7 linked regions of the Homo sapiens genome follow. The protein of the gene in region 6 purifies or fractionates together with the protein of the main gene of each other region. This does not show direct contact. Each region holds a gene or a part of one and is shown on either strand. Other genes may lie near its edges.

The links.
Region 1: the proteins of SHC2 (region 6) and PRORP purify together in Homo sapiens (affinity purification with mass spectrometry; one large-scale study listed by BioGRID and IntAct). This does not show direct contact.
Region 2: the proteins of SHC2 (region 6) and CYP24A1 purify together in Homo sapiens (affinity purification with mass spectrometry; one large-scale study listed by BioGRID and IntAct). This does not show direct contact.
Region 3: the proteins of SHC2 (region 6) and SDR39U1 purify together in Homo sapiens (affinity purification with mass spectrometry; one large-scale study listed by BioGRID and IntAct). This does not show direct contact.
Region 4: the proteins of SHC2 (region 6) and MTG2 purify together in Homo sapiens (affinity purification with mass spectrometry; one large-scale study listed by BioGRID and IntAct). This does not show direct contact.
Region 5: the proteins of SHC2 (region 6) and TMLHE purify together in Homo sapiens (affinity purification with mass spectrometry; one large-scale study listed by BioGRID and IntAct). This does not show direct contact.
Region 7: the proteins of SHC2 (region 6) and SARDH purify together in Homo sapiens (affinity purification with mass spectrometry; one large-scale study listed by BioGRID and IntAct). This does not show direct contact.

Annotation. Positions count from the first base shown.
Region 1 is NC_000014.9:35,268,898-35,273,002, reverse strand, and holds part of PRORP (mitochondrial ribonuclease P catalytic subunit isoform 1 precursor), read right to left. Parts: intron 2,603-4,105; coding exon 2,407-2,602; intron 1-2,406.
Region 2 is NC_000020.11:54,152,400-54,157,045, forward strand, and holds the end of CYP24A1 (1,25-dihydroxyvitamin D(3) 24-hydroxylase, mitochondrial isoform 1 precursor), read right to left. Parts: exon of another isoform or gene 2,363-4,646; 3' UTR 1,047-2,362; downstream 1-1,046.
Region 3 is NC_000014.9:24,439,372-24,444,018, forward strand, and holds SDR39U1 (epimerase family protein SDR39U1), read right to left. Parts: upstream 3,406-4,647; 5' UTR 3,399-3,405; coding exon 3,383-3,398; intron 3,082-3,382; coding exon 2,975-3,081; intron 2,890-2,974; coding exon 2,807-2,889; coding exon of another isoform or gene 2,738-2,806; exon of another isoform or gene 2,731-2,737; coding exon of another isoform or gene 2,727-2,730; intron 2,473-2,726; exon of another isoform or gene 2,425-2,472; coding exon 2,303-2,424; exon of another isoform or gene 1,768-2,302; coding exon of another isoform or gene 1,638-1,767; exon of another isoform or gene 1,556-1,637; coding exon 1,412-1,555; exon of another isoform or gene 1,122-1,411; coding exon 712-1,121; 3' UTR 395-711; downstream 1-394. UniProt on the Homo sapiens protein: Putative NADP-dependent oxidoreductase.
Region 4 is NC_000020.11:62,181,394-62,186,075, reverse strand, and holds the start of MTG2 (mitochondrial ribosome-associated GTPase 2), read right to left. Parts: upstream 3,049-4,682; 5' UTR 3,019-3,048; intron 1-3,018. UniProt on the Homo sapiens protein: Plays a role in the regulation of the mitochondrial ribosome assembly and of translational activity. Displays GTPase activity. Involved in the ribosome maturation process.
Region 5 is NC_000023.11:155,508,347-155,512,451, forward strand, and holds part of TMLHE (trimethyllysine dioxygenase, mitochondrial isoform 1 precursor), read right to left. Parts: intron 3,447-4,105; coding exon 3,327-3,446; intron 1,752-3,326; coding exon of another isoform or gene 1,730-1,751; exon of another isoform or gene 1,492-1,729; intron 1-1,491. UniProt on the Homo sapiens protein: Converts trimethyllysine (TML) into hydroxytrimethyllysine (HTML).
Region 6 is NC_000019.10:433,096-437,200, forward strand, and holds part of SHC2 (SHC-transforming protein 2), read right to left. Parts: intron 3,589-4,105; coding exon 3,535-3,588; intron 3,337-3,534; coding exon 3,285-3,336; intron 3,197-3,284; coding exon 3,070-3,196; intron 1,771-3,069; coding exon 1,614-1,770; intron 1-1,613. UniProt on the Homo sapiens protein: Signaling adapter that couples activated growth factor receptors to signaling pathway in neurons. Involved in the signal transduction pathways of neurotrophin-activated Trk receptors in cortical neurons.
Region 7 is NC_000009.12:133,664,973-133,669,077, forward strand, and holds part of SARDH (sarcosine dehydrogenase, mitochondrial precursor), read right to left. Parts: intron 1,899-4,105; coding exon 1,763-1,898; intron 1-1,762. UniProt on the Homo sapiens protein: Catalyzes the last step of the oxidative degradation of choline to glycine. Converts sarcosine into glycine.

The sequences.
Region 1 (4,105 bases), on a different chromosome or scaffold from region 6:
AGACTTTTTTTCTTCTTGGCATTATTCCCTAAAAGATACAGAAACAACTATTTATATAGCATTTACATTGTATTAGGTATTATAAATAATCTAGATGATTCAAAGTACACAGGAGGATGTGTGTAGGTTATATGCAAATACTATGCCATTTTATATAAGGGACTTGAGCATTTGAGGATTTTAGTATCTGTGAGAGGTCCTGAAACCAATTCCTCATGGATACCAAGGGACAAATGTAAACAAAAGTAGAGAAATGCTATAATGAACTCTCATGTACTCATCACCTAGCTTCAGCCATTATCAATTCATCTCTAGTCTTATTTCATCCATACGCTGCCCTCCCATCTCAGATATGTAATTTCTTCTGTAATACTTCAGTATGTATCTCTAAGAAATAAGGTCTTATTTTATAAATGTAAGATCAATACCTTTATACCTTTATTATACTTAAGAATTAATAGTTCTTCAACTATATCTTGAATCACTATGGTATCATTTAATACCACATTTACTATAAATTTATTGTTTTGGATATTCTTATTTACTTACTTTTATAGAGACATGGTCTTACCATGTTGCCCAGGCTAGTCTTAAACTCCTAGGCTCAGGCAATCCTCCTGCTTCGGCCTCCCAAAGTGCTGGGATTACACAAGTGAGCCACTGCACCCAGCCTTTCTTACTTATTTTTAAATTGACGAATAACAATTATACATATTTATCATGTATAGCATGTTTTTGAAATATGCATACATTGTAGAATAGCTAAATTGAGCTCATTAACATGAGCATTACCTTATATACTTACAATTTTTGTGGTGAGAACATTTAAAATCTACTCTTAGCAATTTTCAATGATACAACACATTGTTATTATTAACTACAGTCATCATGGAACGTATTCCTCTTATCTAACTGAAATTTTTTCTCCTTTGACCAACATCTCCGTTTTTTTTTTGTTGTTTTTTTTTGTTTTTTTTGAGACGGAGTCTCGCTCTGTCACCCAGGCTGGATAGCAGTGGCACAATCTTGGCTCACTGAAACCTTTGCCTCCCAGGTTCAAGCGATTCTTGTACCTTAGCCTCCCACGTAGCTGGGATTATAGGCACACGCCACCACGCCTGGCTAATTTTTGTATTTTTAGTAGAGATGAGGTTTTCGCTATGTTGGCTAGGCTGGTCTTCAACTCCTGCCCTCAAGTGATCCACCTGCCTTGGCCTCCCAAAGTGTTGAGATTACAGGTGTGAGCCATCACGCCCAGCCAATATTTTTTGATAATTGAACCTTATTTATTATACCACGGGCCAGTGTACTTTTCTGTAATAACTCACTTTGGATTCTCTCCCTTTGCTTTCACACAAGATGTGTCCTTATATTATAGATATCTTAACTAGAATCAAAGGAGAATTCAATTGAGACTGTCATAGAAATGAATTAAACAGGGAAAACAAATTACTTAGCAGAAGTATAACAAACTATAAGAAATAAAGAATTTGAGCTATTGCAAATAAACAAAAATAAAAAACACATGTAAGAAGTTATAATTTATGGCCGGGTATGGTGGCTCACGCCTGTAATCCCAGCACTTTGGGAGGCTGAGGTGGGTGGATTATGAGCTCAGGAGTTCAAGACCAGCCTGACCAACATGGTGAAACCCCACCTCTACTAAAAATACAAAAATTAGCTCGGCGTGGTGGCATGTGCCCATAGTCCCAGCTACTTGGGAGGCTGAGGCAGGAGGATCGCTTGAACCTGGGAGGCGGAGGCTGTAGTGAGCTGAGATTGCACCACTGCACTCCAGCCTGGGCGACAGAGTGAGATTCCGTCTCAAAAAAAAAAAAAAAAAAAAGAAGTCATAATTTGTGACATAATTAATTGAAGTCAAAACTGGTATATCCTAAATGTTGTTTTTTGTTTTTGAGACGGAGTCTTGCTCTGTCGCCCAGGCTGGAGTGCAGTGGCGTGATCTCGGCTCACTGCAAGCTCTGTCTCCAGGGTTCATGACATTCTCCTGCCTCAGCCTCCCAAGTAGCTGGGATTACAGGCACCCGCCACCACGCCTGGCTAATTTTTTTTTTGTACTTTTAGTAGAGACGGGGTTTCACCGTGTTAGCCAGGATGGTCTCGATCTCCTGACCTCATGATTTGCCCACCTCGGCCTCCCAAAGTGCTGGGATTACAGGTGTGAGCCACTGCGCCTGGCCCCTAAGTGTTTTAATTAATTTGAGGTTGGCCTATGAAAACTCTAGCAGACTCTTTCTAGGACCTGGCTAGTTCCAAATACTAACCTAAAACTGAGAAAAATAAAGCATTTGCAACCTTCAATTAGTTGTGACACTCTTTTTCTATGCCACATTCTTACTGTATACTTGACTCTGTTAATATTACATAAAGAACAGGTACCATTACCTGAAAGGTTAGTTTTGATCCTGGAAACCTATTTACAATTGCCAGCTGATGTCCCTGCTGCCACTTAAAAAACAGGCGTTGGGTCTTGGCATCAGGCAGACAGGCCTTGTGGTCCCGCATCAGGTCTCTTGTGATAAACCTGCAGTGATTCCCGGAGTGCAGTGTGGCATACAGAAGGAATGGATCATCCTCCGAGCTGAACCAGGCATAAGAAAGGACACAATCAAGCACAGCTGAAGAGGCAGAGGACAGTGTTTTTCACCGTACTTTTTACTTACTTTCCTTGGAGGTGCCTCTGATTTCTTGACCAACATGATGCTAGTAATACTTAAGAACCACCTCAAAGTCCTTAGCTGGTAAGCAATACTATCTAGAACACAGATGGAAAGCTGAGGGGAACAGAATGCTAATGCCTGGGATTCTCACAGCTCACTGGACTCTTCCACTAGAACGATGAATTCTAACAATGCTCTCTTCACACTTAAAAGTTGCTTCTCTTTGGGCATTTTTCCTATTTGCCTTATCTATCACAGAGCACACCTTTTCCCTCTCTCTTCACCCAAATTCAAGAAACACCCAAAATACTACTAGGGCAGGATGAGACTTTCTTGCAAGCCACCAAATAACTGGCTGCCCCTAAAGCTGAACTGGTATTTCAGAGCAGCTTCTAGACAGTCACCTGGATCAGCACCCCAAAACATCTTCTTTGGTAAGAGCCAGTGACTCAAAGCCTCCAACAGACCATCAACCTTAGCACTTATTATTTTAATAAATGTGCTGTAAAAATGGCAGTAACGACCTTGCTTTAGGAGATTCAGACAGCAACTTGTGATATGCCCTATGCCTTGATTCAAATGACCCTAAATAGGACCATTTAAAGTTTTCTTTATCCTGAAGTATTTCAAGTGAAATGATAAAATGACAAAATTTGCCTTATAACTCTCCAGAAAAAAAAGAAAAAGAAAAAATGTATTCGGTTTATGGAACAAAATTAGCAAAATGATGGTAATTGTTGGAGCCGGGTGACAGTTACATGAGGACTCACTATTCACTATATTATTCTCTCTAGTGTATGTTTGAAAAGCTTCTTTGGCACATTAGTGGAAAACAGATTTAATGTTAAACACTTAAATATTCAAATCCAAAGCGACAAAGAAGGTCAGTGAATTGATCGTTACAACTGAGTTTGGAATTTCAGCTGATGCAATAAATACAGACCCCAAACCAAGCAGTGAGACCACTTTCCAACAGGCTTCTTGGTCATAACACTTCAAATTTATCTAATTTTTCCATATAAGGAAAATAATAATGATCATGACAGCAACTAACATATATGTTTTCCATGTACTTGGTGCTATGCCAAGAGTTTTACATGAGTTATTTACACATATTATCTTATTTAATCCTTAAAACAACCCCATAAAAGTTACACAAGAGATAAGGAAGACAGAGAGAAAGGAAAAACCTTTCCCAGACAGGGAGTGGCAGGGCCATGATCTCAACCTGGGTAAACTAATTCCCAAGCCTACAATCTTACTGTCTACCCAATGTTGCCATTAGGTCTTCTGCTCTTGGAGAAATGGAAGCACCATCTTCCAGCTAAAAAAAGAAGGGATGTGGTTTGGGAACTGGATGAGAGGTTTGCTTCTCCCTTGCTTTATGATTGAGAGCTACTGTACTTTTTAAATAATAAATGATT
Region 2 (4,646 bases), on a different chromosome or scaffold from region 6:
GCTTCTTTCCCTTCCTCATCCTGCTGTCCCCACAGTCGCACAGGTCTCCTTGGGAATCACAACCCTAATGAATCCCGGTGCTGGGGACAGCCCCTGTGGGATCTAAGTCATCAAGGAAGATTTCCTTCAGGAAATGAAAGCTGGGTGGACGTAGATGGTGCGTAGGAGAAGAACAGGCAGAGAAAGAGCATGCCGGGAGGGAGACGGTGGGAAGAACCCTCTTGCTAGCATTTAAGGAACAGCAGAAACTGGCAGAAGCCACTGTGGCCTGGTTCCAGAGGCCTCTGGGGGTGGATGATGTGGGCTGAGGCCTGGGGGATCAGTGGGACCTCAGTTGATAGGGCCTGGAAGTGTGGATTGCAGAATCGGATCTTTACGTAAGAGCAATGGGAAGCCCCAGAGGCAGGATGAGGCATGATCAGGTTTGGGTTTGAAAAGACCAGTAAGGCAAGTGTGCAAAGAACAGAGGGGAAGGAAGCAAGAGAGGACTGAGATCAGCTGGGAGCTCCTGCAGAGACTAGAGATATTAGTGGTCCAGGCAAGAGATTGTCAGTATTGCTCCCAGCCACGGAAAATTTGGCTGTTGTAGGTCTTTCATTGTGAAATGTAAACTTATTCTTGGGAATTAAGTATTCAAACAGTGAATGTGGTAGGCAGGGGCTGAAATGGTTCGTAACCTCTACCTGACTGCCAAGTGCCAGCCTCCCTTTCATGTCATGAAAGATACAAGAGAGAACAGGCTCCCAGGCCGTTCTACCCCCCTTTCAATCACACAACCAGTGTGTGACTGATTGTGTGATTGGAAAGGGGGTAGAGATAGAAGTAACTGGACTTGGGAAATATTTAAGCAGCAACAAAATGGAAAGTTATTTTGCAATTACAAGAATAAACTTTCAGTAAAACTGCTATTAAAGTCTAGATTTATCTAAGGGTAAATTTTGTGATATAGGGCTTGTAGGCCATATGAGAAAATTTTCTACCAGTAAAATAAAGTTTGAATTTGTTTTTATTTTGTTGTAACAAAGGCAATAAAGAGGGGAAGTCTCTCAAATATTTAAAAACTTTTATTTTTACTTTCAGAGAATTTGAAGGTATACAGATGAAATCTGACAAGACGTGAATTTATAATTCTAAAAATAATTTCACAGCAGAGAGAAAGCATATACCTAGATATGTACATATTTATTACAATATAAAGACATAAATGTATATTTCTGAAATATTCTAAAAATATAATGTAGGAAGAAATATTTATCAAATACACAGAATTATATACAGTATGCATTTAGGAAAAGCAGTAGTAAAAATATGCACAAATAAACCATCTGTAAACACAATTTTTAAGTCTTATAAGTATTGCATGCATTTCTGTGCATTTTACATTTATGAAATCATATTTTTCCTAGGAGTTCAAATCACAAAACAAATGTTATATAACAGATCTCTAACTTTTGCATGCTTTACACTTGTCCCATTTAATAGACAGAAAAATTATGGCATGGGAAATCATTTTATAATATTAAAGTCACACTGAATGTTTTTAAGCTGTGACTAAACTTTGAAACATTGCCCTGCACCACAGATCCTAAATCAAGTACTGCAAATATTAAAAAAATGACTGAGGCAAATTACCATTAGAACCCACACACACATACACGGACACACACACACAGACACACACACACATGCATGTCTGTGCTTCATATGCACATACACAATTTAAAAATTATTGCTTCATCTTTACCCTAATGCCATAAAGGAATCACATTTAAAAAATAAACAATTTTAAGGTCCTCTAACAAAATAATGCCCCAGTGAATCACTAGTCTTATAAGTTGTTTGACTTCGTTAAAGTCCTTTTAAAAATAGAGGTGTTCTCTAGTTTCCCAATAATGTTTTTATTTCAATGCAGGAAGAACGCAATTTCATGGGAGGCCTGATAACTTTAACCATCATTTAGCTTGGCTTACATTATTAAGCAGGGACATTTTCCTAAGTAGTACATTAAGCAGAGCTACAGTAAATGGATTGTCAGTATTACTCCCAGCCCCAGAAAATTTAGCTGTTGTAGGTCATTCATTGTGAAATGTAAACTTATTCTTGGGAATTAAAGATTCAAACAGTGAATGTGGTAGGCAGGGCCTGAAACGGTTTGTAACCTCTACCTGACTGACAAGTGCCAGCCTCCCTTTCATGTCATGGAAGATGCAAGACAGAACAGGCTCCCAGGCCATTCTAAGCACCTGAAGATGGTGCTGACACAGGTGAAGTGTAAACCAGCAGTGAACCCTGTAGAATGCCTTGGATCCCAGCACTCAGTCCGCTTCCCTGAGTTGGATATGATGTTAGCAAATACCACCATCTAGAAAGACAGTACAGCTTCTGGAACAATTTTGCAGAAGAAAAAGTATCAACACCTGGGCCTAAATATTCTTTATAAGCTGTTGTATGGTGTGGTGTTTGAAGTTTGCTTTCCGGTAACGTAGAAGCCATAAGCACCATTCTTGCAGAAAAGTTGAAATGGCTGTTTTGGTCTTGGTAAAAAAAAAAAAAAAAAAAAAAAAAAAAAAAAAAAAAAAAAAAAGGTATACCCTAATTGTATATCAAAGAAGTGTATTTAAACAAGACAAATTATTAGCCAAAGAAAAAATGCTAAAACTTAAAAGGTGTGGCTTACTGTGATAAACATGCATGCTCTTTGCTGAAGGCTGGGGTGTCACAATGCAGCTAGAATACTTTCCTTACCCTACTTGATTCAGTTCTGTTGGTTGGGATGCTCAGAATTTGACAAATTTCATAATAGCATCAGACACTTGGTGGAGGAATAATAATGTATTCATTTGGGCCTTGTTCAGAAATTTCATCTGTAATTGCATGTTTCTCTAAATAATCTACCAATAAGCAAATGCTCCTTAACTTGCCATTGGCAAACAGCATTTTTTTCTAGGAAAATCCTAGAAGGTGCTGCTAAAAGAACACAATGATAGAATCCGGGTTTAAACACCGACATGTCAGCCTATAAAGCCATATGTTACAAATGTCTTATTTCCACCACCAGGGGTGGTGGCTCACACTTGCAATCCCAGCACTTTGGGAGGCCGAGGCGGGTGGATCACGAGGTCAGGAGTTCAAGACCAGTCTGGCCAACATAATGAAACCCCATCTCTACTAAAAATACAAAAAATTAGCTGGGTGTGGTGGTGTGCACCTGCCTGTAATCCCAGCTACTCGGGAGGCTGAGGCAGAAGAATCGCATGAACCCAGGAGGCGGAGGTTGCAGTGAGCTGAGATTGCACCATTGCACTCCAGCCCAGGTGACAGTGTGAGACACTGTCTCAAAAAAAAAAAAAAAAAAAAAAATTAGGGCCTTCTTAGGCTAACTTTTGATCACTTCAATAGTTTTGAATTCATTGTAATGTCTATTAGGAGAACATAACTAGACTTACTAACTCTTAATTTCATTAAGGAAATTATTACTCAGGACGAGGCCAACATATGCTATTTGGCTTATGTTATTTAAAGGAAATAACTCAGTAGTATTGAAATAAATAGCACCTGGTTGGTATATGGACATGGCAAAAGTTGTGGAGGGAACATGAGAACTCCTCTATTGTCAGAAAAAGTATTGAATGGCATACTGCAGAAAAAATATTCTATTGTGTTCAATACAGGCTGATAAATATATACATTTATATTACATGTGGTTGCATAACACAAACCTAGACCCTAGGGCTAAATACAGTCCACCGCTTGTTTTTTATAAAATTTATCAGAACACAGCCTTTGTAGGCAGAATAACAGATCTCCTAAAATGTGAATGCCCTAATCCCTGGAACACGTGAATATACTACCTTATATGAAAAAAAGGGCTTTCCAGATGAAATTAAATTTATGAACTTGGAGATGGGAGACATGATCCTGGATAATATCTTGTCAGACAGAAGCAATGTAAGAAGAAAGAGAGATTCAAAGTGTGAGAGGGACTCAACCAACCATTGTTACTGGCTTTCAGTTGGGGAAGGTTTCATGAGCCAAGGAATATGGGAAATCTCTCAAAGTTGAGGATCGCCTTCAGCTGACAGCAGCAAAAAAATAAAGACTTCAGTCCTGTAACCATGAAGAACTAAATTCTGCCAACAACCAAACTAGCAAGAGAATAGATCCTCCTCTAGAACCTCCAGAAAGAGCCCCGACAACACGATAATTTTAGCCTGGAAGAGCCTCATCAGACTTCTGACCTATAGAACTGTAAGATAATAGATGTGTGTCGTGTAACTCACTAAGTTTTAGTAATTTGCGGTGGCAGCAATAGAAAGCTAGGACATCAGCTCACTCATTAGTTTACAAATTGCCTGTGGCTGCTTTCATGTTCCAAGGTAGTATTAAGAGGATGTGACAAAGACTGTATGGTCCATAAAACCTAAAATATTTGCCAACTGGCCCTTTACGGAAAAAGTTTGCCAACCCTTACTATTCACATGCAAAAACCATGAACAGCTGCTAGCATTTACTGAACACTTAATTGATGCCAGGCTCAGGAATAACTACTTGGTATTCATATTAAATTTTTGTGATACACTCTCTTTGGGTCATCATTTTACAAATGAAAAAAAAAAAGGAAGTAGAGAGTTTAGGGAACTGCTCAA
Region 3 (4,647 bases), on a different chromosome or scaffold from region 6:
TGACTTTGTTCTGCTGCAGCCTGATAAACTGGGACCACTGTGTGGTTAGTAATGCACTTGCCATTTGGTGACACAGACTGAAGGCTATCCTACACCTGGGCCTTACCTCTTCCTCTACTGGCATCCTAATGGCACTCTGACAGCATCCAGGGTGACTACAGGGCCCATTGGAAATGGATCATCATTCTCTCTTCTAGTGTCTATCTTTATCATAACCTGATGTCCCAAACTTGTGACAAGTTCTTTTGGCAACTGAAGGACCAAGAAGGGAAACGGTGATGAGAGAGACTGCTCATTGTAACTTTCAAAACCCCGTCTTTGGGGAAGAATCATCTAGGGTGACATTCCTTGAAGTAAATCCCAGGAGAATCTAGGCCAAAGAGATGAGCCAAGGTTAGTGAGACAATTTATTTTTATTGCCTAAACTGCAGAGCATTCTCTACACAGCGTAAAGGAGAAGTGGGGCAGCTGCAGGACATGTAGAGAAACCAAACTGGGAAATCTTACAAGGAGTTGAAAAGATTAATGTCCCAACCTGATGAGATTACGGCCTTGAGACAATAAGGTGGAGCAACAGAACAATGGGAAAGAGGACTGGGAGAGGAATCTAAGAACCAGATGGCTTCAGCTCTCTAGAGGAGCTGAGCCTATTCACAGTGCCTAACCTGGAAGCCTGTGAGGAACAGGCCTCAGGCCCTTGCCACGACCTACTTAGGCTACAATTTCCTTTAAGGCAGCCCCTAGCTCTGGGAAGGAATACTGGTAGCCAGTGGCCAGTGTTCGCTGTGGGATCACCTTCTGGCCCTCCAGCAGCATGATGGCACGCTGTCGCCCAAAGACAGCTTGCACCACAGCGCTGGGGAGAGGGATGAAGGCTCGGCGGCCCAGGGCAGCACCCAAGGTCTGGGCAAACTCAGCATTAGTGGCGGAGGATGGAGCCACTCCATTCAGGACCCCGTGCACGTGGTTTGCTTCAAGGGCATGGGTCAGGATTCCTGCCAGGTCCCCGATGTGTATCCAGGGGAAGAATTGGTGGCCTGAGCCGATGGGGCCCCCCAGGCCCAGGCGAAAGGGCAGCAGCATGTGGCCCATGGCACCACCCCCACGGCCCAGCACAACCCCTAGAGCAGGAAAGAGGGAAGGTACAGGGGTCCTCTCAGCCTTGAAGGAGCCCACTGCTCCTCCTGGTTTCTGTTTCCCCTTCCTCACTCTCCCCATGCTGACTTGGCTCTGTAACAGAAGTGAGCAGTATGGCTGTCTTTAAGACCTCACACCTTCTCATCTGCAGGTTGGCTAGAAGTGGTGGCATCCTCTCACTCTGTAATTGTAATCTCAGCTCTCCTAATCCCATCACTTCCCCAGCCCAGAGAAGACATTCCAACCCTGTCTGATACCCAGGCCCGTTTCTCACCTGAGCGCACCACCACCTGGCGTGTAGAATCTCCAGGAAGCCTGGCTGCAGCTTCCCATTTGGTTACGAGGTTGGAGAAAAAGTCAAAGTCCCCTCCTGGGCTGTCTTCATCATACTCCGCAGTCAGACTGGGCTGGTAGTAAGCTGCCGGTGGAACACAATCATTTGCCCTGGGTGTCCTTGGTCCTGCCTGGCTCTCTGTAGTGGAGGCTCCCCTTGGCCTCACCTTCTCTGGCCCTTAGGATCTCCCCATTTGGAGACAGAGCCATTTGGATATTTTCCCCTTGAACTTCTCCATGACCTGAAGCGTTCCTTCCCTGGAGGAACTCTGGTTGCAGGGCTAAACTTAGAGGCTGCTAGAGTGTAGTGGTTAAGAACAGGAACTTGGGTACCAGGCGCCTGAATTTTAATCAGCTCCCTCATTTATTAACTCTCTGACTTGATGCAAGTTACTTAACCTCTCTGTATAGAATTTTCACATCTTTAAAATGGGAATAATAGTACCTACCTCATAGGGTTGTTGTAAGGAATAAATGATAATAAGCATAAAACACTTCAAATAGTGGCTGGTGTGTATAATTGTTTGCAATTACTTGGTCCCAAAGGTGACCAGGAACTCTGTTCCTAAAGAACTATGGTGTGAGAAGTAAGGGACTTTGGGATAGGTGGACTTTTCCCTGGCATTGAGTGATGCCACTCCCCACTGTTTTTTCAGGGTCTCAATTTCTTAGTGAAAGTACACAAAGGTTAGGAGAAACATGCATGGATCAAGGGCCTAGGAAGTCATTTTGCCTGGAAAAGACCAGTGCTCTGGTGTGTGCATAGCTACAGAGGTCTGAGTTACCCCGTTCCCCTGGCGAATATAAGGGGCTGGTGATTTGGGGGGCGTACCTACACCTGTGACTAAGACCCAGGCCTTGGGGGGTTGTGGGGCTTTGGTGATGGCTTTAGCCAGCAATTGGGTGGTCTCTAGGCGGCTGCCGATTACCTCTTTTTGGAAGGTTTCATTCCATCTGCAGGAGAAACATGGGAAATAAAAAGCCACTAAATACATAAGTGCACATATCCCTCTCTCTGTCTTTTCCTGGGAGCTATTTCATACCAATTTCTTGTAAAGCCCTGAATTTCGGCTTAAGAGAAACAGTCAACGTCTCCTGTAGAGGGAAAGGGCATTCATTTCCTGGGCATCCTGAGTTATACGTGAGGACTTAAGCCAATTGGCTGACTGGGTGGAGGAGCAGGTGGGGGTGGAGGAGTGGAGCAGAATGAGTAGTCTGGGATATCGGTTTAGTTCGGAATCTGGGAGCTCCATTACCCATAGCTCACAGGTTCTCATCAGTGGGGCACTGTCCTCCCTGTGCTCTAGTGGGTATCAGCTTTAGGGCCCGGGCTGACCTTCGGAGAGGGTTGAGGATGTTCTCTCCGGCCAGGTTGACGGCGGCATCGCAGCTCGGCAGCCCCGATGCAGCGAGCTCATCCTGTCGGAGAAAGCACACAGTGCCCCTGCCCCGCCCTGCGCCGCCCAACTCTGCCCTCCCACCCGCTTCCAGAGGATGGACTTACCCACGTGATCCGGCCGGGCCCGGGCTTTCGGGAGACCAACGTCACTTCGTGGCCTCTGGCATTCAGCAGCTGGGTTAGGGCTGTCCCAATGAAGCCTGTCCCGCCACCTGATCGGAAAATACAAATTGTTTATATTCCCGTGGAGTTGGGGTGGGGGCGCCTTCCGTCCCCGCTGTGGCACCCTCTTCCGGCGCCATCCCATCTGACACCAGGCTTCTCCCCACTTATCCCCCTCCTCGCGATGCAGAGGTGACACAGGTCACAGGGATTAGGGAGATTCGGCTTCTCGGGCTAGGAGGCCAAGGCCAGGTTGCCTGTGCACTAGACAGTGCCCTCCCGGAAGCGGATTCCCAGTCCTCAATCTCCGACTAAGCCCGCCCAGCACTCTCCCTTTCTGCCCTCCCTCACCCACAAGCACACGCATAGCGACTAGGACCTAACGCGCCTGCGTAAAGTTTAGAGTTTACCTCACCTCAGACGCGACTACGACCTCTCTGCGCATGCCCCTTTCGGGAAGCGCGTTCCAATCGAGGTCGCAATCCTGTGCGTGACCCTTCTCGGCGACCCGGAAAAACTTGTAAATATAGGCTGGGTGTTTCAATAGCAAGCGAGGTGGGAGGGATTAGACCGATGGACCCGGAAAGGGCGGAGGAGGGAAGGCTTTAGTGTAGAAAACCAACCAAACCAAACCCAAACCAACAAAACCCTTCACCTAAAACCCGAAGCTACCCAGACCTCAGAATTTTGGATGTCTATTAAGTTGGCGGGTCAGTAATGCAAGAGAACCCTTCCACCGGTAATCTGGATTTCTTTCCACTCGGCCAGTTTTTTCTTCTCTCTCTTTCCGCTGGAGCCTTTCTATCAACATTTAAACATTCCAAAGATCCCCCTATATTAAAATAAGCCTTCTCCAGACCTGTTTTTCCTCCAGCTAATATTCTTTTTTTTTTTTGCCTTCATAGCCAAACTTCCCACAAGTGTGGTTTCCATTTTCTACTTCTTACTTCACTCCTATAGGGTTTGTGCCTTTATCATTCATTTCCTCACTCTCCAAGAACATAAGTTTCCCATGTGTCACCAAATCTAATCCCTAGTTTTCAGTTAGTTTTCTTGACCTCTCAGTATCAATGGGCACCTGCTGATTCCTTCCTCCCTTTGAAAATGTTTGGCTTCAGTGAAAGACATTCTCTTCTCGGCTTTCTCGTACCTTTTTTCAGTCTCTGATGCTTGCTCCACCTCTGCTAAGTTCTTAAAATATTGGTATTCCTCAGAGCTGGATCCTAGGACCTTCTCTTTCCAATCTGCACTTTACCCTAGGCATCTATGCCTTGAATTCAGTTACCAGGCTTTAACAGAAGACATCCCAAATCTCCTATGCAACTCGGATCTCTCCTCTGAGCTCCTAACCCCTATAAAAACTTTTCACTACACATCTCTTCTTGGACGTCTGAAACCCTGTTGATTTTAAATACTGAATCTCTCCCAGATTTATCTAAGAGGGGTCTTTGAAAAGTTCATGGAAAATGTGTATTATGCTAAAAAATACATAGGTTTCCAATTTTTTTTTTTTTTTTTTTTTTTTTTTTTTTTTTTTTTGAGACGGAGTCTCGCTCTGTCGCCCAGGCTGGAGTGCAGTGGCGGGATCTCGGCTCACTGCAAGCTCCGCCTCCCGG
Region 4 (4,682 bases), on a different chromosome or scaffold from region 6:
CAGCCCGGATATTCTGGAAACCAGGCTTCCTGATGCAGGTGACATGGAACCTGCAGATCAACCGCAGAGAAGGTTGCAAAGCCAACCAGAGACCTGAACTCGGAGTCTTGCCTAATTTGCTTCCTCCTTTTTGCCCTTTCAATTTCTCTTTGGAGGCCCGCTGAGTGCTGTGCTCTCTCCCCTGCCGGATGAACAAATCCCACTGTTTTCACGCTGCTCTTTGGTGTCTTTATTTTCCTTCCAACAAGGCTGTCCTTGACCTGTCCAGCACAGTCCCCACTGGCCAAATGTGGCCATTTGGCTAAAATTAACTGAAATGTAAAAACTCAGTCCCTGAGGTAACATCTAAGTGCACACAGCCACATGTCACGAGTGGGTACATATGGGACAGCACATATTAGAACACTGCCCTCATCACAGAAAGGTTTTTTTTTGAGACAAGAGTCTCACTCTGTCTCACTCCCAGGCTGGAGTGCAATAGCATGATCTCACCTCACTGCAACCTTCGCCTCCTGGGTTCAAGCAATTCTTGTGCTTCAGCGTTCCAAGAAGCTGGGATTACAGGCACCCATCACCACGCTCAGCTAATTTGTGTACATACATATACATGTATATATATGTATGTGTATATATTTTATTTTTTATTTTTTATTTTTATTTTTTTTGGAGACAGTCTCGCTCTGTCGCCCAGGCTGGAGTGCAGTGGCATGATCTCAGCTCACTGCAACCTCTGCCTCCCGGGTTCAAGGGATTCTCCTGCCTCAACCTCCCGAGTAGCTGGGATTACAGCTGCATGCCACCACGCCCAGCTAATTTTTGTATTTTTAGTAGAGACAGGGTTTCACCATGTTGGCCAGGCTGGTCTTGAACTCCTGATCTCGTGATCCGCCCACCTCAGCCTCCCAAATTGCTGGGATTACAAGCATCAGCCACCACGCCCTGGCCATTTTTTTTCTTTTTTATTTGAGGCAGAGTTTCACTCTTGTAGCCCAGGTTGGAGAGCAATGGTGGGATCTTGGCTCACTGTAACCTCCGCCTCATGGGTTCAAGTGATCCACTCGCCTCAGCCTCCCGAGTACCTGGGATTACATGCACCCACCACCACACCCAGCTCATTTTTGTATTTTTAATAGAGACGGGGTTTCACCGTGTTGGCCAGGCTGGTCTTGAACTCCCGACTTCAGGAAATCCACCTGCCTCGGCCCCCCAAAGTGCTGGGATTACAGGCGCGAGCCACCACACCCAACCAATATATCCACTTTTAAATGTATTCCTAACGATAATACCCTGCGAGGGGTAATACTGCATGCCGAGCTATCTTCCATTTGCTTTTCCAGACCAGCTTTCCACCCTGCCCTGTGCTGTGTGTCAGGAGCCTGAGCTTGCCCCATAGGAAAACCTACTGGGACCTGGCCCTCTACCAGAGACTGGAGGCAGGAGCAGGAGGCCGGGACATGGACCTCCCTGCCCACTCAGACTGAGGCTCACACCTCCAGTCCAAGAAGCCCTCCCCAGTGACTCTTCTCCCTGTCCCGATCACTGCTGCCTTCCCTGATCCTTTGGAGTCCAGGAGTAGAAACTCCACTGCCACCAGTTCCAGGCTAAAGGACCAACTGTCATTAACCTGCACTCTGCCTTTGCAAACGGTCCCTTTATAAACCCTCCTCAAATCCTCCTGTGAGCATGAAACCTGATTTTTTTTTTTTGGGTATGTTTTTGAGACAGAGTCTCGCTCTGTTGCCTAGGCTGGAGCAGAGTGGTGCGGTCTCGGCTCACTGCAACCTCCACCTCCCAGGTTCAAGCGATTCTCCTGCCTCAGCCTCCCCAGTAGCTGGGATTACAGGCGCCTGCCACCACGCCCGGCTACTTTTTTGTATTTTTAGTAGAGATGGGGTTTCACCATGTTGGCCAGGCTGGTCTTTAACTCCTGACCTCGTGATCTGCCCGCCTTGGCCTCCCAAAGTTCTGGGATTACAGGCGTGAGCCACCGCGCCCAGCGGAAACCTGATTCTTGACTTTACATTTTTTATGCCCATCTAAAGCAGTGGAGGCTGAGACTCACAGAGGTTCAGTCACTTGCCCAAAGTCACATAGTATCCTCTGGCCTCCCTGGCATGCTGCTGACACCTGCATTTTACGGCAGGAATCTTCTCACTGAGGTTCGCCTACACAGACTTCCCAAGGGACTAAGGCCAGGATAATTTCAAAGGAATCCATTTTCTGCCCAAGTTTCGCTACGTTCTCTCTGCTAAAACAGAACTGCCTGAGGACGAACCTGCGTTTAAAACAATTTGAATTCTCCTTTCCCGTCCCCCTTTTATAATGGGTCCTCCCCTTTACAAAAGAAAGGTATTTCTCTAGTGACACTGCCCAACAACCCCTCTAATTCCCACCTACAGGTCTGTGTGAACGCCGTTCCTCGGTATCCACAGCTACGAGAACGTAAATGGGAATAGAACGGGTAACCCGCTCTCACTGGGCAGAAGCCAGCCACGGACAGTGAATTATCTGGAAATGCGTCTCCCTGAGGCGCGTTTACAATACAAAACTTTATTGTTGTTTTATCATCCAAATGTGTATATATTTATGTTGTTTTGTGCAACTGTATACTGCCAATAATCACTTTAAAATGTTTAATACTTAGAGCGCTGGATCAAGGCAAATTCCTAACAACTTGACTCGGAACTCACACACGGCACCCATCCCGTGACAGAGCACCACCGGGGTGGCTGACAAGACTTCTGACCCCAAAACGCGGTTCTGCGGAGAGAGTGGGGCAGGACCGGGGAGCAAGGCGCCGCTCCCCACCGCCCGAGCGCTCGCTACTCCAGGGCCGCAGCGCTCGGTCCCGCCGGGGTTCGCAGCCCGGCAGCCCTCCAGGCCTCTCAGCTCCTAGGCCGGGGCCTCTCCCGCTCCCAGCGCCCCGGTACCCCGCGGCCCAAGCCGAGGCCCCTCCTTGCGCCCGGGCCGCGACCACCCCCCAGGCCCACGCTCCCCGCTCCCCGCTCCCGCACTCACCGGCTCGGGAAAGCACGTCACTTCCGGAGCGTCGCAAGCGGCCGACCACTTCCGGGGCCTTTTGGCTCCGGAAGCCCAAGGCTTGCCCAGTGCGCAGGTGCAGAAAACACGCCGACGGACCGAGAGGCGACCTTGTCCCTGGTAGCGGAAGCAGGAGCAACGGCAGGAGGGATGCGGAGCGCTCAGCTGCAGCCGCGCTTCTCGCCGGCGCCCTCGCTGCCCGAGCACAAGGACAGCCGCCCCGCCCGTTCCACCCGGTGCCCAAGGTCCCCCAGCTTCTCTGACCCCTCCGGCGTTTGCGGAACCTCCCGGGTCTGACGAGGACACCGCCGTTGCCCGAGGAGGCTACGGGGCAACGCAGAGCAGGCAGTGGGGACCGCAGGGCAGCCCCGGGGCGCCGTCCCCACCGCCCTTACCCTGGCTTCGCCTTGCCGCCGCGGGGAATCCGGTGCGGACGCACGCGAACTCTGCCCGGGAGCCGAGGTGACGATCTACCTGGTCTCGGTAATAAGTATTTGCAAAACACATCACACCAAAATCCCGTTAACTTCATGAAAACTCACTTTATAGGATGATTTTTGAAGAACCAGTTTATTAAGAGATTACACCAAAAGCATAAACAATTTATACGTCAAACTCCGACTGAAAAAAAAATAACCGATAAGGATGTTTTTTAAATGTACTGTACTCACAAATAACAAGACAAATTTGACCTGTTCAATAAATAGAAATGAAGTGGCTAAAAATGTTTAAATGGAAATGGAAAACAGTCGTCTTCTTTGTACAGTTTTGAAGGGGTGCCCCCTATTCACGCCTACACGTAGAAAAACCCTGACAAAATCAGAGGTTCACTTAACACTCCAACCATATGAGCGTATTAAGGTTTCTTTTCAGATCTTAGGAGATCTTGTCCACCTTAATCCCATTCACAGATCTTAGGAGATCTTGTCCACCTTAATCCCATCATAAAGACTGTTGGCATGAGTTCTGATGTACTGTTTTAATATGCTGAGTACTGTTGATTCAACAACAAACCTTAATGGGTGATGAGCTTTTGCATACCAATATGAATTTGTCAGCACTTCTGAAAACTGGCCATCATTTTTCAAATTCACAATTTGCTGGATGTCAGGGAACAATAGGAAGAAGAATGAGCGTCAATTTTCATGTCTTCCTTTGCTTCTTCACTGGCCTTCCATAGAAGTAGTCAGAAAAAAACAAAGCACCATCAACCACACTTCACAAACAATTCATGTTGGCCTAAGCTTTGCTCAACATTCATATGACAGAAGATAGAATAATGAAAAGGAACTGCTGGCATCACTTTCCCCATAATATTACATAAAAATGGACAGCACATTAAATAAACATTCTGTTATTAATCATTAAATATATTAACACCAAAAATCATGTATAAATTAGGAAATAAATGTACAAACTATTTTGCAAAGTGCTTTTTAAAATATATACACAACATTCAAGATATTCTTAATGTAAGACATTTCAGATTGAAGTTTTGGGGTAAGTGTCCTTTTCTTTCAGAAAGTATTATTAATACAGCACTTAAAAAAACACACAAACACACAAAAAAGGCATATTCCCAGATTGGCAAGGAATAAAAATAAACTATCTTCACAGTTATCTAAAATGTTTAACATTTTCAG
Region 5 (4,105 bases), on a different chromosome or scaffold from region 6:
ATCTAATATAATATAAATACAATTAAAAAGAGAAAGGTAAGCCTGGCCATATTGAAATTTCTGTGAAACTTCTAGGTCAGGGTTATTTAGTTACCAGTTAAAGATGTTTAAGGAAGAGAGGTGGATTTTGTTACAAGTGATAGCTAAAGCCAAGAGCATGGAAGAGGTCGTTTGGAGAGATCATTTCAAGTAAGAAAAGAGGGATAAGGAGAAAACCTTGAGGAAGAATAATATTTAGGAAATAGACAAAAGAAGCCAGCAAAGGAGGCTGAGGAAAAATGGTCAGATATATAGGAAGAAAACTAGGAAAGAAGGAATATTTAAGAAATTTAGTAGTGGTTAATGGTATGTCTCAGGGATCAAGTAAGATGACAGTACACACTGGATATGACAATTAGTTGCTGGTGACGTTAGAGAGAGTAACTTTAATTGCGGTGAGGGGTGGGTTGGGAAAACTAGATGCCTATGGGTTTGAGGAGTAAATGGGAAGTGAGAATGAAAATATATTGAATGTAGCTATTATTCTTTTAATAATCTTAGCCATGAAGTGGAAGAAAAAAACATGGCTGTAGCTAAACGGAGATAGAGTCCAAGGAAGTACAAAAATAGAGAATTAAGATATGGGAGGCTGATAAGAAGGAGTCAATAGGTATGGAAAGGCTGAAGATAGAGGAGAGAGAAATCCCCAAGGAAGCTGGAAAGGATGAGATCCAGAGCAAAGATAGCTTTAGAGAGAGTAAAGCATATAACAATGAAGATAGTGATTAAAATGAATAAAATGATGAAAATTATAGCTAATATTTATTGAACACTTAGTTTGTGTCAGGCAGTATGATCATATAATTTAATTCCTTAGCAATGCTAATGGATAGGTTAGTTTGTGTCAGGCAATATGATCATATAATTTAATTCCTTAGCAATGCTAATGGATAGGTTTTATATTACTAGTCCCATTTTACAGATGAGGAAACTGAAGTACAGAGAAATTAAGTTACTTGTCCAAGATCACAAATCTAATACATGTTGAGGCTGGAATGCAAATCTGGGTCTGGTTGATGCCATAGCCTGAACTCTTAAGTGCTATTACCATACTGCTAATTTACTTGGTCCTTGCCATTGATTACAAACAATTAAACTAAAGCCACAAACAGTTGTTTATCTCTGGTGTTGGTCATAAAGGGAAGAGCTAGTCAGTATTTGAACCTCAACCCCTGTACAGCTGCTTCTTATCTCATTTCCTCTTTTTTCCTTCTGTATCCACTAGAATGAGGATGCAGGGTTGTTGATCTCTCCATATATTGATAACATTTATCAGGATATCTAAAAGCTGCTTTGTTCTTCCTTCCCTGAATCAAACATTCTTAAGTTATAAACCCTTAAAGGAAATCAGTGTAACCATGAGCAATTGCATATTATCATCCTCTCATATAGTCTCCATAAATCTATGTGCACTCATTTTACTCATATCTTTGTGTCTCAGGCTCACCATCTAAATGCAGAAGCAAGATCAAGAACACGGAATAACCACAGAGGTGCCTCTACTGAAGAGCAAATGGTAGGAAAATTGAGTATAGTATGTATCATCTTTGGTTCAAAAGCATCTTATTCCGTGTGAAGAAGTTATTCTTCCATCATTCCTCCTCTCCAACTTCTTGTAAATCAGATTCAAATTCTTCTTAATGCCATACTCAAAGCAGCTGTGTTTGCATGACGACCCTTTTGCAATATGTTAATAACTAAATGCAAGAAATCTGTACAAATTCCAAAACTAATGGTTAGGCAATACTTTTTTGGGGGATAATTTATAATTACTTTGAAAAATGTAAAATTACATTTTAATAATTAACAAAATTAGGACTCCATTTATATAGTAAGATGAGTTTTCTTTTTATTTTATTTTATTTTATTTTATTTTATTATACTTTAAGTTTTAGGGTACATGTGCACAATGTGCAGGTTTGTTACATATGTATACATGTGCCATGCTGGTGTGCTGCACCCACTAACTCATCATCTAGCATTAGGTATATCTCCCGATGCTATCCCTCCCCCCTCCCCCCACCCCACAACAGTCCCCAGAGTGTGATGTTCCCCTTCCTGTGTCCATGTGTTCTCATTGTTCAATTCCCACCTATGAGTGAGAACATGCGGTGTTTGGTTTGTTGTTCTTGTGATAGTTTGCTGAGAATGATGGTTTCCAGCTCCATCCATGTCCCTACAAAGGACATGAACTCATCATTTTTTATGGCTGCATAGTATTCCATGGTGTATATGTGCCACATTTTCTTTATCCAGTCTATCGTTGTTGGACATTTGGGTTGGTTCCAAGTCTTTGCTATTGTGAATAGTGCCACAGTAAACATACGTGTGCATGTGTCTTTATAGCAGCATGATTTATAATCCTTTGGGTATATACCCAGTAATGGGATGGCTGGGTCAAATGGTATTTCTAGTTCTAGATCCCTGAGGAATCGCCACACTGACTTCCACAATGGTTGAACTAGTTTACAGTCCCACCAACAGTGTAAAAGTGTTCCTATTTCTTCACATCCTCTCCAGCACCTGTTGTTTCCTGACTTTTTAATGATTGCCATTCTAACTGGTGTGAGATGGTATCTCATTGTGGTTTTGATTTGCATTTCTCTGATGGCCAGTAATGATGAGCATTTTCTCATGTGTTTTTTGGCTGCATAAATGTCTTCTTTTGAGAACTTAAAAATATTTTATTCCTAGGAGTCTGATATAGTTTGGATATTTATCCCCACCAAAATCTCATGTTGAATTGTAATCTCCAGTGCTGGAGGTAGGGCCTGGTGGAAGTGTTTAGCTCATGGAGGTGGATAACTGATGGCTTGGTGCTGTCTTCAGATAGTGAGTGAGTTCCTGTGACAGCTAGCTGTTTAAAAGTGTGTGGCACCTCCTCCCTGACTCTCTCTCACTTGCTCCTGTTTTTGCCATGTGAACTGTTTGCTCCCCGCTCACCTTCCACCATGATTGGAAGCTCCCTGAGGCCTCCCCAGAAGAAGATGCTGCTATGCTTTCTGTATAGCCTGCAGAACCATGAGACAATTAAATCTCTCTTTTTTTTTTTTATAAATTACCCAGTCTCAGGTATTTATTTATAGCAATGCAAGAATGGCCTAATACAGAATCTAAAAACTGAGTTAAGGTATTTCAAAATGATCATGTTTCTAGGGGAAGAGAAAGTCATACAAATCTGCAGGAGCAGATATGATCTTGGTTCGAACAGAATGGAAAATAATTAAGAAACCACTCAAGACTATCACATATAAAGACTTTACACTGTAAAAGTCTAATCCACCTACCCACAGGGCTCTTGAAAATAGGTAGTGTCAGTGTGCCGATCCAGAGCTAGCTTGGTGTACGCAGTGTCACCTCTGGAGAAGTCTGAAGTGAAATACCACATCCTCCCATAAATGGTTTCTCTGTTAGTTGAAATAAAGAAAGACCTGTTAGCTATTTGAAATGTTCATTCTTGTCTTTCAAAACTCCTTCCAATACCTTCTTTAGTTACTCACAAATAACAGTAGATTTTTTTGGTTCCAGAATTTAATCCATAAGGTGAAAATGACAGTTGAACATGCTAGTCTTGACAATTCTGTCACTTATTAACATTCTAGAAAGTTGGGGAGAAAACTGTGGAAGTATAATATTGTATTATGAAAGCTTGGAGAATCATCCCACTCTGATTATGTGCCCAGTTTTCATAGCCTTCATAAATTCAAGGTTCTTTTCTATGCTCACCTTTCTTTCACAGAAAAAGATATAGCTGCTTCTGGAAGTGATTTTTTTATTTTATTTTATTAATTATTATTATACTTTAAGTTTTAGGGTACATGTGCACAATGTGCAGGTTTGTTACATATGTATACATGTGCCATGCTGGTGCGCTGCACCCACTAACTCATCATCTAGCATTAGGTATATCTCCCAATGCTATCCCTCCCCCCTTCCCCCCACCCCACAACAGTCCCCAGAGTGTGATGTTCCCCTTCCTGTGTCCATGTGTTCTCATTGTTCAATTCCCACCTATGAGTGAGAATATGCGGTGTTTGGTTTTTTGTCCTTGCGATAGTTTACTGAG
Region 6 (4,105 bases):
GGCAGATAGATGGCGCTTCATCGTGAGTGAGATCGTGAGTGAGAGATAGAGGAGGCCGGGCAGATAGATGGCGCTTCATCGTGAGTGAGATCGTGAGTGAGAGATAGAGGAGGCAGGGCAGATAGATGGCGCTTCATCGTGAGTGAGATCGTGAGTGAGAGTTAGAGGAGGCCGGGCAGATAGATGGCGCTTCATCGTGAGTGAGATCGTGAGTGAGAGATAGAGGAGGCGGGGCAGATAGATGGCGCTTCATCGTGAGTGAGATCGTGAGTGAGAGTTAGAGGAGGCCGGGCAGATAGATGGCGCTTCATCGTGAGTGAGATCGTGAGTGAGAGTTAGAGGAGGCCGGGCAGATGGCGCTTCATCGTGAGTGAGATCGTGAGTGAGAGATAGAGGAGGCCGGGCAGATAGATGGCGCTTCATCGTGAGTGAGATCGTGAGTGAGAGTTAGAGGAGGCCGGGCAGATGGCGCTTCATCGTGAGTGAGATAGTGAGTGAGAGATAGAGGAGGCCGGGCAGATAGATGGCGCTTCATCGTGAGTGAGATAGTGAGTGAGAGATAGAGGAGGCCGGGCAGATAGATGGCGCTTCATCGTGAGTGAGATCGTGAGTGAGAGTTAGAGGAGGCCGGGCAGATAGATGGCGCTTCATCGTGAGTGAGATCGTGAGTGAGAGTTAGAGGAGGCCGGGCAGATAGATGGCGCTTCATCGTGAGTGAGATCGTGAGTGAGAGTTAGAGGAGGCGGGGCAGATAGATGGCGCTTCATCGTGAGTGAGATCGTGAGTGAGAGATAGAGGAGGCGGGGCAGATAGATGGCGCTTCATCGTGAGTGAGATCGTGAGTGAGAGATAGAGGAGGCCGGGCAGATAGATGGCGCTTCATCGTGAGTGAGATCGTGAGTGAGAGATAGAGGAGGCCGGGCAGATAGATGGCGCTTCATCGTGAGTGAGATCGTGAGTGAGAGTTAGAGGAGGCCGGGCAGATAGATGGCGCTTCATCGTGAGTGAGATCGTGAGTGAGAGTTAGAGGAGGCCGGGCAGATGGCGCTTCATCGTGAGTGAGATAGTGAGTGAGAGATAGAGGAGGCCGGGCAGATACACGGCGCCCCATTGTGAGCCTGTGATTGAGTGAGTGAGTGAGATCCTGAGTGAGATCATGAGTGAGTGAGATCATGAGTGAGATCATGAGTGAGTGAGATCATGAGTGAGTGAGATCGTGACTGAGATCATGAGTCTGTGAGTGAGATCATGAGTGAGTGAGATCATGAGATCGTGAGTGAGATGATGAGTCTGAGTGAGATCGTGAGTCTGTGAGTGAGATAGTGAGTGAGACTGAGTGAGATCATGAGTCTGTGAGATAGTGAGCAAGTGAGTGAGATCGTGAGTCTGTGAGTGAGTGAAATCATGAGTGAGATCGTGAGCCTGTGAGATTGTGAGTGAGATTGTGAGTCTGTGAGTAAGTGAAATCATGAGTGAGTGAGTGAGTGAGTCTGAGTGAGAGACCCTCCTCTAGGATCGAGGAGAACAGGAGCAGAAAGAAGAGCTGGAGGTAGGTCCAGGGAACCAGCAGCTGGGGCATCCCTGTCCCCATCCCCCCGAGGGCAGAGGCTGACCTGGTCGAGGGCCGTGAGGGCGCAGGGCTGTGTCAGGGCCAGCCTGGAGTCCACTAGCCCGCCCAGCGGCGGCTCCTTCCCCGGGATGCTGTTGTAGTAATTGTGCTCCAAAGAGTCCTCCTCGTCCCCCCAGGCCGACTCCTCCGGCCCTGCCAGCCTGGGGGACAGACAACAACGGCCATGGCACAGGCAGGGCCCAAGGGGGCTAAAGCCTTACGGCTTGAGCTTCTGGGGGAGCAGGAAATATCTGAGTTCGAATCCCAGCCCCCCACCTGTCACTGAGGGTTCCTACCGGGAAACGCTTCTAGAGCCAGTGACCAGGCCCACTACTTCCTCATCTATAAAATGGAATGTTGCACACATTTCCGAGCTGTAGCACAAAAGGCAGGTCGTTGGCAAACCCAGTCTCCACTCCTTTCTGCCCACCTCCGGCCCCGCCCGGCAGCAGAGGGCATGAGCCAAGTTTATACCCAGAACCAGGACATCACCGGTCAGGGTGGCAACTCTCTGGGATCAAAGCGCCCCCGCCCTCTGGCCCCGATGGCACTGGCAGGAATTGATCCTGCAGGTGCTCCTCAGCAAGCACGGCCCCGAGAGCCAGAGGGGTGCACCCCACCTGGCCCACAGTCGCTGCTGGGATAAATTATGAAGCAGCCTACGGAAGGCAGAGGCAGCTCTGGAGGCAGGCGAGGAGCCCGTCTCAGCTTCGGAGCGTGCTGAGCAACGTGCATCAAGCACGCTGTCCCCGTGCACAAAGGGGTGAGTGTGAGCAGGCGTGCGATGCCGCCTCCCTCGTGACCAGCAGGCTGGGAGCTCATGCACCTGCACCTGCCCTCCCACCATTGGAGGAAGCTGACTTTCTAATGATGAATAGAGACTTAAATAGCTCCTTCTCCAAGGCCAGCTGGCAAACCCCAGCCCAGGGCCAAATCCAGCTCACCGCCTAGATCTGTGTGGCCCACGAGCTAAGAATGGGCTTTCAATCTTTAAATTATCAAAGTTAAGTGTTTGAGAAAACATCTAGAGAATCATATTTTGCAACACGTGGCATTCACACTTCAATGTCTATAAAAAACGTGTTACCAGCACACAGACACGTCCCCCCCTTTACACATGTTCTGCGGTGAGACGGAGGCCGTTTTCTGCCCATTGCGGGAGCCGGCCGCGCGTCTGGAGGAGGGATATTGGTTGTAGCAGCAGGGCTGACAGCCTCAGGCACACCGGGGAGTCAGCTTGCTTAGTCCTCCCCAATCCTGGGGGGCAGGCGGGGATGCGTTTACTCGGGTGTTAACAGCCGAGGAAACAGGATCCTCTGGCTGAGCCATATTCTCACGGGACAGGGAGGGAGGGACAAGGGCAGGACGGAGGCTGAGGCCTGCAGGAGGTGGAGCAGGCTCTGCACCTGGGCAGGTCACTGGGGGTGTCCCCAGGGCACGGGGGAGGCAGCTCTGGTTACCTTTCTGGGGGCAGCGCCACCTTGGGCGGGCTGTGCAGGTACTGCTTGAAGCGCAGCTCGAAAGCTTGGCCCACGGTGCTGATGATGCTCTGTGCCAGGCCCTCACAGCACTCCAGGATGTGGCAGGCTGCGGGCACGTTGGTCATGCAGCCTCCGAGCCACACGGCCGTGCCCCCCAGCCACAGGACCCCCACCGGCCTCCCCGGGGGCCTCACCTCTCTGGTTGATGGGGTCCTTGGCGACGTAGGCCACGTAATCCGTCATGTCCTGGGGGCGGGGAGGGGCCAGCTGGACCTGCCTGGGCCCCCCACCGGGATTCCCAGCTGCCCACCCCAGCAATGCAGAGAGATGGGGCAGTGGATGTGGGCACAGGGTACGTTAGGCGGGCTCTGGGGAAGGATGAGAGGGTCTCGCGGCCGGAGGGGGGCGGCAGGGCTGCAGGTCCACCCCCATCCCTGGCCTCACCGTGTCTCCGCCTGACGCGAAGGAGATGGACGGCATGTGGTGGTTGGCGATGACCTGTGGCGGCAGGAGGCACACGCGGTCATGGGGGCCCCGCTTCGAGGGCAGGGGGCCCGGCAGATGGACCAGGACCACAGCGAAGAGTGGGGCAGGGGCAGGGATGTGGGGATGGAGACGTCTCCTGGACAGGCACCCACTGCAGCCGGGTCCTGGGTCAGCCTGGACGACCGAGGCTGGGATGTGGAGTCCCCAGCAAGGAAGGGACTAGGGCCCTAAGGGATGTGTGGGGTCCGCAGGAGGTCACACGGGAATGTGTGTGAGAGGACAAACCTCCCCCACTGTAACACTTCACACATGTACCTGCCCAGACGCTCACACACACACACCCCAAGCCCCACACACATGCACACACACACACACACCCGAAGCAGCCACGGGAGGGACGGCCCCACACTCCTGACTCCCTTGTCCACGTGCAAGGGCACCTGTGAGTGCATTTGCATGCTTATCTGCATGCTCATTTGTATGCTTGTTTGCCTACTGATCTGCATGCTCGTTTGCATGCTCATCTACT
Region 7 (4,105 bases), on a different chromosome or scaffold from region 6:
CTTTCCCATCAATGAGCAGGTTTCCCTATCTTAGGCAGAAACCTCCGTTACCCCACTTGGGTGCTAGAAAATGTTTAACAACCAGCTCTGGGGTGAGGTGGGTGTGACTGTAGCATTTGCCCATTTCCATGGTGCAAATGCTCTGGACAGCCCTGATGGAGGGGGCAGGAGACGTGCACCGGCCGCTCTGGGTGCATCGACTGGTTCCCCGGCTGCCTGTCTGGATGCCGTTTAACCTCGGAACCTCGGCTTCCCTGGTCACGTTGGTTATGGACCCATCCCTGACTCCGGAGAAAGGCGAGCATTACTGTTCTTTGAAGAAATGGCAAAGGAGCCTCCACTCCCCAGCCCACCCTGGCATGGAGCCCATAAACTCCGGTTTGGCTGGGCCCCAGGGCTGTGGCCCCCAGGACCATGGCCCCAGGGCTGTGTCAGGAGGCCCTGCCCACCGTGGGAGCCATGCCATCACAATCCCCACATATTAAGACTCACTCTGTGCAGTGGCCTGTATGACAGCCCTGCATGGTAGGTGAGTGTCCACATTTTATAAATGAGGAAACTGAGGCTCCAAGAGAGGATCCTTATCCAAGGTCACAAAGCAAGTAAAAGGCAGATCCAAAGGCTAGTGGCATCAAGTGTGTCCCCAGCCTCCCAGCTCCACCGCCGGACTCAGCCCCATGGGCTGCCACTTCCCCACAGCTCCACAGGACCATGGTCTTGCCCGAGGCCTGGCGGTGTCCCCTCCCCATTGGGCCTGCGAGCTGGGCCTGCGCATGTTCTGCAGCTCTTGCTAAGGCTGCTCCGTCTCCAGCCTACCCCTCCTCATGGCTTCTCCCAAGTGCTCGCTCCCTCCCCAATTCCCTCTACGTGTCCATCAGGGGCTCAGGCTGGAAGGCTCTGGAGCCAGGCCAGCACCTCCCGGCCTCACTTAGGGCTTAGGCCAAACGTCAGATCGGCTCCCATGGAGAGACACGACCCTCCTCACCGGCACCTCTACTTGCAGTGCCAGAAAGATGGGAAAAGGAGGTGGAGGTAGAGACCACCCCTTCCCCTTCTGGGGAGGCTGCCCACCCCCTGCCCCACCACCCCTGGCCACCCAGAGCTGTCCTGGGACTTGCTCCTGGGGGCAGTGCCTGCTCTTTCCAGCCTGTTCCTGCCTCCTGCAGCCAGGGGTCAGGGTCACCTGGAGGGGGTGGGGTTGCCTGGGGTCAGGGGTGTCGGGGGTGAGGAAAGAGAGGATAGGAACATGGGTCTCTGAGTCTCTAGTCGGTCACCCTGGGGGCCACCCCTGCACCCCAGGCAAAGGGTGGGCTGTGGGTGGCCTGAGGTTTGGGTCTCTGGTGTGAGGAGCTGGAAGGTATCAGCCTGGCTGGCTGGCACCTCCTTCTAACCAAAAAAAGCCTGGAATCACCAAAGTCGGATTCTTCCAGAAAGAAAACAGAGAGCAGCTTTGGCTCTGCCCAGGCACAGCTGGGGAGTCCTCCACCTGCTGAGGCCTCTTCCTCCCCCTTCTCCTTCTCCCTCCCTCCTCCCTCTCCCTCCTCCTCCTCCTTCCTCTCTCCCCTTTTTCCTTCCCCCTCCTTCTCCTCCTTCCTTCCTCCCCCTCTTCCCTCCTCCCTCCTTTCTCTTCCCTCCTCCTCTTCTGGACCACACCCGTGCCTCCTCCCTATGCCCGGCACACTCAGGGTGCAGTGCAGGGAGCTGGTTTGGAGCTGGTGAGGGATCGGCATCTGCCTTAGCAGGGCCAGAGAAGGGGACTCACCGGCCCACCGCTGGGGTCATGGATGTAACCGTAGGCGATGGTCTTGTCGATGGCGAACCCAAAGTCAGCCCTCCGGACATGGCCCACCACTTGGCCGTTCCTCCAGATGGCCTCCAGGCCAAACATGGGTACTTTGCTGGAAGAAGCAGTAGAGAAAGCTGGGGCCCCAGAAACCGCAGGGTGGGGACGCGTCCACAGCGGCCTGGAGGAGAATGGGGGGCTGCATGATGCACACCCAACCGTGGCTCCAGGCAGATAGGGCTGGCCTACTAGGACTACGCTGGTCCCCAGAGCCAGCCCAGCACCTGGCCTGGACAGCAGGGCTCGGGCTTCGAGTGAGTAAAAGGGATGAATAGAAAACATCAAAACCAGGAGTGGACTTTGCTGTTTCCAGAAGCGAGCCCCGTATATTTGGGAGGGCCCCTGCTTCCGATTTCCTTCCATTGTTGTTCAACTCTGGTTTTTTTTTTTTTTTTTTTTTTGGTGCAGTGGCACAATCTAGACTCACTACAACCTCCGCCTCCCAGGTTCAAACGATTCTCCTGCCTCAGCCTCCGGAGTAGCTGGGATTACAGGCACCCACCACCATGCCCGGCTAATTTTGTATTTTTAATAGAGATGGGGTTTCATCATGTTGGCCAGGCTGGTCTCGAACTCCTGACCTCAAGTGATCTGCCCACCTCAGCCTCCCAAAGTGCTGGGATTACAGACTTGAGCCACTGCGCCCGGCCAGGTTCATTTTTTTTATAGTACAATACATACTTTATTCAAAGGACTTTACTACATGTAATACATGAATGCTCACTGTAAAAGTTTTAAAGATTAAAAGCAGGAAGACAAAAAAAAAAAAGTAAGCTAAAATCAAAGAAAGGCCAGCACCCAGGGCTAACTGGTAACATTTTGTTGCCAGTCTGCAGACTTCTCCCTGTGCAATGGGTTATCACGGCGGCAGCTATGCAAAGGGGTCCCTGAATGGAAGGGCTGGGGTGATGTTGAGGGCACCTCCTGCATCCTCAGCCTGGAGTCACTGTTTGGGTCCCACCTGTCCATCAGATTAGGACGAGGCTGGAAGGAGGTTTCGTAAACATCTTTGGTGTCACCCTAGTTTCTGTTCTCCACGTGAGGACGCTGAGGCCCCAACTGCCCGGAGTCCCAGAGCAGTGTGGCAGGGCTGTTCTCTGTGACTCCACTGCCAGCATCTTCTCTGCGCCTGTCCTGGAACTGCAACAGTCCAGAGCCGCGGCGCAGGGCAGCTATTATGCAGCCTGACAGGAAACCCCTGAGCAGAGCGCACTGGGTCACAGGGGCCGTCCGAGGCCCTCCTAAACCCAGACATCAGGCTGCAGGTACTTCATGGAGGGCCAGAAGGTCGGGGTCAGGCAAGCAGAAAGGACCCATGGATGCTGACCTGTCTGCAAGGGGCCCCCTCTCCAGGAGCTGAGCTGATTCAGGGAGCTGGACAGGCTGTCACACAAGAGACAGAGCCTGACAGGCACCCAGGGAGAAGCCACAGGATGACGACGACACGGCTCCACTCACCGTCCCTCTCCCTCCCTCTCCCTCCCTCTCCCTCCCTCTCCCCCACCCTCCCTCTCCCTCTCCCTCATTCTCCCTCACCCTCCCTCTCCCTCACCCTCATTCTCCCTCAGCCTCCCTCTCCCTCTCCCTTCACCCTCCCTCTCCCTCTCCCTTCACCCTCCCTCTCCCTTACCCTCCCTCTCCCTCGCCCTCCCTCTCCCCTCGCCCTCCCTCTCCCCTCACCCTCACCCTCCCTCTCCCTCACCCTCCCTCTCCCTCACCCTCCCTCTCCCTCACCCTCCCTCTCCCCTCACCCTCCCTCTCCCTCACCCTCCCTCTCCCTCACCCTCCCTCTCCCCTTACCCTCCCCCTCCCTCTCCCTCACCTTCCCTCTCCCCTACCCTCCCTCTCCCTCACCCTCCCTCTCCCCTCACCCTCCCTCTCCCTCACCCTCCCTCTCCCTCACCCTCCCTCTCCCCTTACCCTCCCCCTCCCTCTCCCTCACCTTCCCTCTCCCCTACCCTCCCTCTCCCTCACCCTCCCTCTCCCTCACCCTCCATCTCCCCTCACCCTCCCTCTCCCCTCACCCTCCCTCTCCCTCACCCTCCATCTCCCCTCACCCTCCCTCTCCCTCACCCTCCCTCTCCCTCACCCTCCCTCTCTCTCTCCTTCCCTCTCCCTTACCCTCCCTCTCCCTCACCTTCCCTCTCCCTCACCTTCCCTCTCCCTCACCCTCCATCTCCCTCACCCTCCCTCTCCCCTTACCCTCCCTCTCCCTCACCTTCCCTCTCCCTTACCCTCCCTCTCCCTCACCCTCCATCTCCC